Regions from separate parts of the Homo sapiens genome. Here regions 1 and 3 are each linked to region 2. Evidence: fine-mapped expression QTL. A gene starts in region 2. Each other region holds a variant in brackets. All regions are shown on one strand. Distances are from middle to middle. Region 1 overlaps RAB20 (RAB20, member RAS oncogene family). Region 2 holds the start of RAB20 (RAB20, member RAS oncogene family). Region 3 overlaps RAB20 (RAB20, member RAS oncogene family).

Region 1 (2,666 bases), 30 kb after region 2:
GGGCTGTCCGATCTGGCAAGGCAGAGAACTCATCTTAAAAGTTTCTGTTCTCCGCTGGGCACAGTGGCTCATGCCTGTGACCCCAGCACTTTGGGAGGCCAAGTTGGGAATATAGCATGAACCCAGGAGTTCAAGACCAGCCTGGGTAGCATAGTAAGTCCCCATCTCTACACAAACATAAAAGAAATTAGCTGGGTGTAGTGGTATGCACCTGTGGTCCCAGCTACTCGGGAGGCTGAGTTGGGAGGAACACTTAAGCCCAGAAGATGGAGGCTGCATTGAGCCATGATCGTACCACTGCACTTCAGCCTGGGTGACAGAGCAAGACTCTGTCTCAAAAAAATAATAATTAAATAGGCTGGGCGTGGTGCCTCGCGCCTGTAATCCCAGCATTTTGGGAGTCCAAGGTGGGTGGATCACTTGAGGTCAGGAGTTTGAGACCAGCCTGGCCAACATGGTGAAACCCTGTCCCTACTAATAGTACAAAAATTAGCTGGGCTTGGTGGTGTGTGCCTGTAATCCCAGCTACTAGGGAGGCTTAGGCAGGAGAATTGCTTGAACCCTGGACGTGGAGTTTGCAGTGAGCTGAGATTGCATCACTGCACTCCAGCCTGGGCAACAGAGCAAGACTCTGTCTCAAGAAAAAGTAAATAAATAAATAATGAAAGTTCCTGTTGTCTCAGTGTTTGCATTTCCTGGTAGGGCTCACTTTTCAATGAATTGAAATACCAAGCTTTCTAATTCTTACATTTCAATAGCTGCCCTTTTATTTCCCACTTTCACTGGGTAAATTGCTGATTTTCACTCCTGGTGCACCTGGTATTCACCTGGGGCGCTTTTAAAGCTGATACAAATGCCAGCCCCACTCTTGCCCTGGCAGCTGGGTCAGGGTCTGAGCATCAGTATTTTTTAAGTCTCCCCACCCCATGCTTAAGATGTGAGCCAAGGGTGTCCGTGGCTTCTGATGGCTATCTCAACCCACTCTTATTTAAACCAATAGTGAAAACGACACAACACTTGGGGTAGAAGCCTGGCTGTGTTTGGCTTTGGGAAGGCTGAAGAGTGAAATGGAAAGCACTTGGGCAGTTTTTGGTTCCGCAACAGTGAATCAGGATTACTGTGG[G/C]TGCTGACTTCCCTTCCCCTTCTGCCTGAACCCTGGGCCATGTCAGCTCCACTGATCTGGCAACATCCGGAGCACCCCCAGGACCAGGGAGAAGGTCATCATCTGAGAATAAGAAACGTAGAAGATTGGTCCACTGCAAAAGCGCCCAGTCGGCCCCAGGAGGTGGTGTGTAAATGGAGGGATGATGAGACCCGGGACATGGGCAGCCCTGGGACGGTGGCATCCATCCTTAGGTTTGGGAGGAATCTCACGATTTATGGAACAAGCACTTCTATTACAGGGCCTAATGTGCTGGGTGCAGCTCCAGCCAGTTCACCTGTGTGCAGATTCTGCTTTCTCAGCCACCCTTTGGCAGGTGTAACCCACATTTTAGTGACGGGGAAACTGAGGTACCGCATGTCTAAGTGACTTGCCCAAGGTCACACGGTGGGGATTTGAATGTAGTCTGTCTCTAGAGTGGGGGCTGTTTACCAGAACGCTCTGCAGTCCCTGCCCAGCGAATTAGCCGGCACTTCCAGGATAGTTCTCTGCGTAAAATTTGGAGCTCCTGGGAAGGTGGCTGCATTCTGCAAATGCCTGTGCTCTGTGGGATCACAGGGTGGAGGCAGGCTTTTCTCCTGCCCAGCAGCCCACCTCAAAGGGGCCCTAGGCCCCTTCCTCTGCCTCTGGGGGTGGTTAGACCAGACTCCCTGGGGTGCCTGTTGCCAGCGTGCTTCTCAGGGCTCCACCGCTCCTGTGTCTGTTGCCCACCTCCTTCTCCATCTGTGCCTCAGTTCCTCCTCCTGTAAAACATGGGAAAGGGAAGCCTGCACGAGCATAATAAACCCTGAGGACTCACACTGTGCTGGCCATGCTTCTTCCCATAGCTAATGCAGCGCTTCCTATCCTTGATACAGGACGGGATCGTGGAAGTTAACAGCTCATTCCCTGCTATAAATTACGAAGTCCTGTTCTGGCTTCCATTTCTCTTGTTTAGACAGAACTTAAACCTCATAAAGTGAGTGGAATTAGCTCTTTAGGTGAACAGACACAATTGTGTTTTTAGATCTGTAAATTCGAGAAACAAACCTGGTGGGACCTGCCTCCTGAGGGCCCTGTGTCTGTGTAGAGGTGGGGTGGGTGGGACCTACTTCCCCAGGGTCCTGTGTCTGTGTAGAGGTGGAGCGGGTGGGACCTACTTCCCTAGGGCCCTGTGTCTGCGTAGAGGTGGGGCGGGTGGGACCTACTTCCCCAGGGTCCTGTGTCTGTGTAGAGGTGGGGCGGGTGGGACCTACTTCCCCAGGGTCCTGTGTCTGTAGAGGTGGGGCGGGTGGGACCTACTTCCCCAGGGTCCTGTGTCTGTGTAGAGGTGGGGCGGGTGGGACCTACTTCCCCAGGGTCCTGTGTCTGTGTAGAGGTGGGGCGGGTGGGACCTACTTCCCCAGGGTCCTGTGTCTGTGTAGAGGTGGGGCGGGTGGGACCTACTTCCCTAGGGCCCTGTGTCTGCGTAGAGGTGGGGCGGGTGGGACCTGCCTCCCCGGGGCCCTGTGTCTGCGTAGAGGTG
Region 2 (2,644 bases):
TCTACACGCTGCATATTTTAAAAGCATTTCAAGGTTTATCCTTTAAAACGGAAGGAGGACCTGGGAGGCCGAAGCGGGTGGATCACGAGGTCAGGAGTTCGAGACCAGCCTGGCCAACATGGTGAAACCCCGTGTCTACTAAAAATACAAAAATTAGCCGGGCATGGTGGCACATACCTGTAATCCCGCCTACTCGGGAGGCTGAGGCAGGAGAATCGCTTGAAACCGGAAGGCGGAGGTTGCAGTGAGCCGAGATCGCGCACTGCTCTCCAGCTTGGGCAACAACAGCAAAACTCCGTGTCAAAAATAAAAAAAAAAAAAAAAAAAGAAGGAGGAAATATTTCTCAAGTAGCGACTGCAACTTCCATAGTCAAATTTTCATTCCAAGCTATAAATGGAGATGACTGTCCACTTTTCAGGACAAAAAGCTTCTTGCAAAAGTAGAAGAGCAAAAGCAAAATCCTCCACTAGAAAGCGCCCCCATCTCTAATCTGTAACAGTGAGAGCCTCAGGACGAGTTCCGCAGACGCTCATTTAAAGCAAACTTTTTCAATGACCTTGAGGGTGGCTGTACTTACACGCGGAGAAGCAAATCGACCGCAGCTGGAAAGGCGCTGGGTCGAGCGTGAGAGGAACACGGGTTTTACCTAAGGGAGAGTGGAAGAGAGAAGGGGGTTCCCCAAGGGCCCCGGCCCCTTCGCCTCGTTCGGGCCCCGCGGCCAAGCTCCTCGCACCGCAGCCCCGGCTGTGCAGAAGCGGAGGGGCGGAAGGTGCTCTCAGAACTTTCATTTTCCACCCTGCAGCAGTCCCGAGCCTCGGCTGGAGAACTCGGATGCTTGCGAAACGGCGAGGTCCAGCAGGGGCGGGACGGGGGCGGTGGGCGGAGGAGGATAGGGCGGGGCCGCGGCGGTGAAAGGGCCCGGGGGCGGGGGCGGGGGCGGGGCGAGGCGAGGCCGCCGCGGTCCGGGCCCCCGACGTGGGCTCCGTGCTCTGCACCCAGCTCCTTCCCGGGCGCGCACACGCGCTTCCTCTCTTGAGCTCCCGGGCGTCCGGAGGCGAAGGTCCCGGAGCGTTCACGAGAATCCGGGTCCCGGCGAGTCCGGGGTCCGCTCCTCCAGCTGCGCCCAGGGCGCACGAGCCGGCCAGCCTCGGGGAGAGGGCGCGGGGGCGCTGGGGGTTCTTACGGGAAGATGAGGAAGCCCGACAGCAAGATCGTGCTCCTGGGGGACATGAACGTGGGGAAGACGTCGCTGCTGCAGCGGTATATGGAGCGGCGCTTCCCGGACACGGTCAGCACGGTGGGCGGCGCCTTCTACCTGAAGCAGTGGCGCTCCTACAACATCTCCATCTGGGACACCGCAGGTGAGGCCGGCGCCGCATGAGCCACACCGCCCTGGGGCTCCGCCGGGGACGGGGGGCGCGGGGCTTCCAGCAGGGCACCCGGCCGCGCACAGGGTCCCGGCCTCGGACAGCAAATGCCTCCTTCTCGGGGTTTCCCACTCGTCCTCCCTTGCTGGTTGGGCTGAGCGCTGCCTCTCAGCCACTCAGTGACCTCAGGGACAACCCAAGTTGCAGAGAACCCGCTGGTCATTTGTGTACCTAAGCTGCCTTTGCTCCCGAGCCCCGCGTTCCTGCTCTGCCGCCCTGGGAACCAGAGACGCTCCTCTGTGGCTGCTTTGTTAGGTATTTTCAGTTTTCACGTACCCGTAGGAACATGATATCCTTTGAGATTCACTTGAGGGGTGAGCAGAGCTGGTGTTATTAGCCCCTTTCTAAGAAAAAGTAAAATGAGGCACAGAGTGTTCCCCCCTGTTGGGTTTAGTCAGGAGAGAGGAAATAAAACTGGAGCCTCCGGACCTCTTAGCCCGGAGCATATCTGCCTTTTACAGTTAATCTTCTGCTTGATCTTGGCTCAGATACGTCATATGGGTTTGGGTTGGAGTGACTTCCGGTGGAAGCATTTTTAAGATAGGTAATGAGTTATTTTTATTGTGTAGTATTTGTGACTTTTCAAAAGTACAACTTAGAGGATCTCAATTCAGGCTTTCTGTTTAACTTTGGAAAATAACACTGGTGATTGTAGCATTGCAATGGAATATATTTCCTTCTCCTTACAAAAGAATAAGATATTGTAAGTGAATGAAGAAACTGGAAATAGTGTGACACATTTTCAATGAGTGTGAGTTTTTAGAAGCCTGAAACTCTGAAAGTTCTGACTTCTTTTATGTTAGCATCTTAAAAAGTCATATACCCAAAGGCCCCGTCCAGAATTCTTAAATTGCCATCTTGGGTGTATCAGTATGCTGAATAAACAAGATGATAATGAATTCTCTCTTTAAAACTGAATTAACGAAGCTCACAGAGGTACTTCCAGTTCTCCCCCTCCCTTTTGCCTTCTTTGATGCTTTTTTATTATTATCCCAGTTAACATCGTGACTAATTTATTGGCAATCATCTTGTGAAAACAATGTCCCCCAGGTAAAGAGGTGCATTTCCCTGATCTTTGCTCCAACTCTGTCTTCTGCCTCAGGCTGCAGGATGAGGTTTACTGAGCTGACTCCCTCACACTGAGCATTTGGTAACGATGGAACACACGCTCTAGAAGTCAAATCGAACCCAATTCACGAACCCAATTTGCTTCTGT
Region 3 (2,666 bases), 38 kb after region 2:
CCCGGCTTGCCTGCAATTGCCCGCACCTCTGTCTGTTTTAAACCTGGAGGGCAGGCGGGGCTGCGGCACCCACAAGAAGTGCGAATGCTGGGGCCTGGCTCCTCAGGGATTCCGATTCCAGCGTGGGAGGGGAGATGTCCACTGTGTCCTAAAAATATCGTGAGCACCGCAGGGTGCTGTGTGATTCTGGGCAGATAAGGGCAGGTGTGGTTTACAACTGCTGTTATGAACTCAGAAGCCCTCCCCGCAGCACTTCCTGGGCAGGGCAGCACAGGGCAGCTGGGAGCACCCAGGGGGTGTAAAGGAGGAGGGTGAAGGGACATGGGCACACTTTGCTTCCGGAGTCTGCATTCCCGAGTCAGCTTCTATCTCAGCAAGGGCCTTGGCAGTCGCTGCTTTTTTCTGGACATCAGTTCTTGATTCCTTCCATCTCCAGCCATGGCTGGGGCCAGGACTCCTTTGGAGTTGGTGCTTGAAGGCAGGGAGGGCTGTGTGAATGCCTGAGGCCCGTTCTTCCTGAACATTCTTGGATTCTGTTTCCCATCTAGTCTGGGCACCCAACAGCTTGTTTTCTCGAGGGGCTGCCTGCTTTGGGGATGGTGCCCATGGGTGGCACATTCTCCATCAACTATGTTTAAGCATTTCATCCTGTGTGTGTTGCCCTAAAAATAAACATCCCTGTGGGACGTTCCCTTGCAGTGTGGCTGGTGGCTATGTTCTGAGATGAGAGATAACCACTCTTTCTGTCCCTCTCTTCCCACCAGGGCGGGAGCAGTTCCACGGCCTGGGCTCCATGTACTGCCGGGGGGCGGCCGCCATCATCCTCACCTATGATGTGAATCACCGGCAGAGCCTGGTGGAGCTGGAGGACCGGTTCCTGGGCCTGACAGACACAGCCAGCAAAGACTGCCTCTTTGCCATCGTGGGGAACAAAGTGGACCTCACTGAGGAGGGGGCCTTGGCGGGCCAGGAGAAGGAAGAGTGCAGTCCCAATATGGACGCTGGGGACCGTGTCTCCCCAAGGGCACCTAAGCAGGTGCAGCTGGAGGATGCGGTGGCCCTTTATAAAAAGATCCTCAAGTACAAGATGCTGGATGAGCAGGATGTGCCGGCCGCTGAGCAAATGTGCTTTGAGACCAGCGCCAAGACCGGCTACAATGTGGACCTCCTGTTTGAGACCCTCTTTGACCTGGTGGTGCCAATGATCTTACAGCAGAGAGCTGAGAGGCCGTCACACACAGTGGATATATCCAGTCATAAGCCACCCAAGAGGACCAGATCTGGGTGTTGTGCCTGACTTTCGAGGGCCTCCTGGACTCAGACTGTGCATGTTGGGAAGGGGTCTGACCAGGCAAGCTGTGATCTGAAAGGAGCAAGGAACAGCAAGGAATTATTTTCCAGAATGACACCCGCAGCAGAATGTTGGAGTGGAAATGATGGCTGGCTATGAAGAG[GA/A]GGTCAACGTGTGTGGTCTCCTCAGTCTCTGTCAGAGGGGTGGGGAGGTGGGAAACAGGAATCCTCTGCAAAGCCCAATCTGCAGAGTCGAGACCCCTGGTGCTCTCTGCCCCGCTGCCTGGCACTGGTCCTTTGCAGCCAGCCACCAACGGCCCCCTTGCCCTTGCAGAGGCAGAAGCCTGCGTCTGCACCTGCACCTCTGACCGTTTCAGCACCCTGGGTTGTTACCACGTCCTACAACTCTGACATTTCTTGTTCTCAAGCGTTTCTCTTCACTGTGAGTTGTCTTTGGTCCTCCCACTTGGTACTTGTATCTTGATGCTTTATAATCCTGACTCTCGACGTGTTCATTTATACAAAATCAGGAATAACTTTGTTTTTATACTGATTGCAGCAATGTTGGCTACATGTATTATTAAAGAGGATTTTTGGAACAACTTAGGTATTGAGACTGAACTGACTTCATTTGCACCCCCAGTCCCAGGGACTCTCTGTGGGGTAGGGTGGGGGGCGCTGGGGAGATGGCTGTGAACTTGAGATACGTCTCTCTTTGTGCGGAAGCTCTGTGAAATCCTTACCAATTGCAGAATATTTAGATTGGCCCATCTGTCTAGTTTTCTTGATGACTTGAATTCCAATAATAGTAGCAAAGCTTAAAGCTCTGGTTCTGCTGAAGTCTGGGGCATCTGAGCACCCAGGTCTCTGAGTCAGAAACCCCCTTCGGGTCTGCTGCTGCTGGCCGTGGGGTGGCTGCTTTATTGGAAGATGTCAGACAGAGGTGCCAGGAGACAGCAGATTTGTTTTCCCAGAAATGTGACTGAACGAAAGCAGGCTGGGGTCGGGGCTGTTTGTTGGGAGGCAATGTGGGGCAGATGGCACTGGGCAGTGGGTTTCATAAGTGCTGTTTTCTTTCTTTTTTTTTTTTTTTTTTGTGATAGGGTCTTGCTCTGTCACCAGGTTGGAGTGCAGTGGCGTGATCTTAGCTCACTGCAGACTGTACCTCCGGGTTCAAGCAATCCTCCCGACTCAGCCTCCCAACATGCTGGGATTACAGGCATGTGCCACCATGCCCCAATAATTTTTTTTTTTTTGGTAGAGTTGGGGTTTTGCCATGTTGCCCAGGCTGGTCTCAAACCCTTGAACTCAAGCAATCCTCCCTACTCAGCCTCCCAACATGCTGGGATTACAGGGTGCTCTGTTTTCTGGGGAGC

The links.
Region 1: its variant is fine-mapped to the expression of RAB20 in monocytes after R848 (Quach 2016, PIP 0.91).
Region 3: its variant is fine-mapped to the expression of RAB20 in monocytes after LPS (Fairfax 2014, PIP 0.95). The same link has a PIP of 0.9 or more in monocytes and monocytes after interferon gamma.

The regions. Positions count from the first base shown.
Region 1 is chr13:110,530,367-110,533,032 of GRCh38, reverse strand. All of the region lies in intron 1 of RAB20 (RAB20, member RAS oncogene family), which reads left to right. Among named protein-coding and RNA genes, the nearest start is that of COL4A2-AS1, 24 kb to the right of the region's middle. RefSeq lists an enhancer at 1,659-2,275. The variant G/C (reference allele first, on the strand shown) is at 1,124.
Region 2 is chr13:110,560,066-110,562,709 of GRCh38, reverse strand. It overlaps RAB20 (RAB20, member RAS oncogene family), which reads left to right and starts at 988. Exons shown (of 2, transcript NM_017817.3): 1 at 988-1,362. The coding sequence starts at 1,191. RefSeq lists silencers at 859-1,308, 1,200-1,389, 1,369-1,428.
Region 3 is chr13:110,522,296-110,524,961 of GRCh38, reverse strand. It overlaps RAB20 (RAB20, member RAS oncogene family), which reads left to right. Exons shown (of 2, transcript NM_017817.3): 2 at 765-1,896. The coding sequence ends at 1,297. Among named protein-coding and RNA genes, the nearest start is that of COL4A2-AS1, 15 kb to the right of the region's middle. RefSeq lists an enhancer at 195-334. The variant GA/A (reference allele first, on the strand shown) is at 1,455.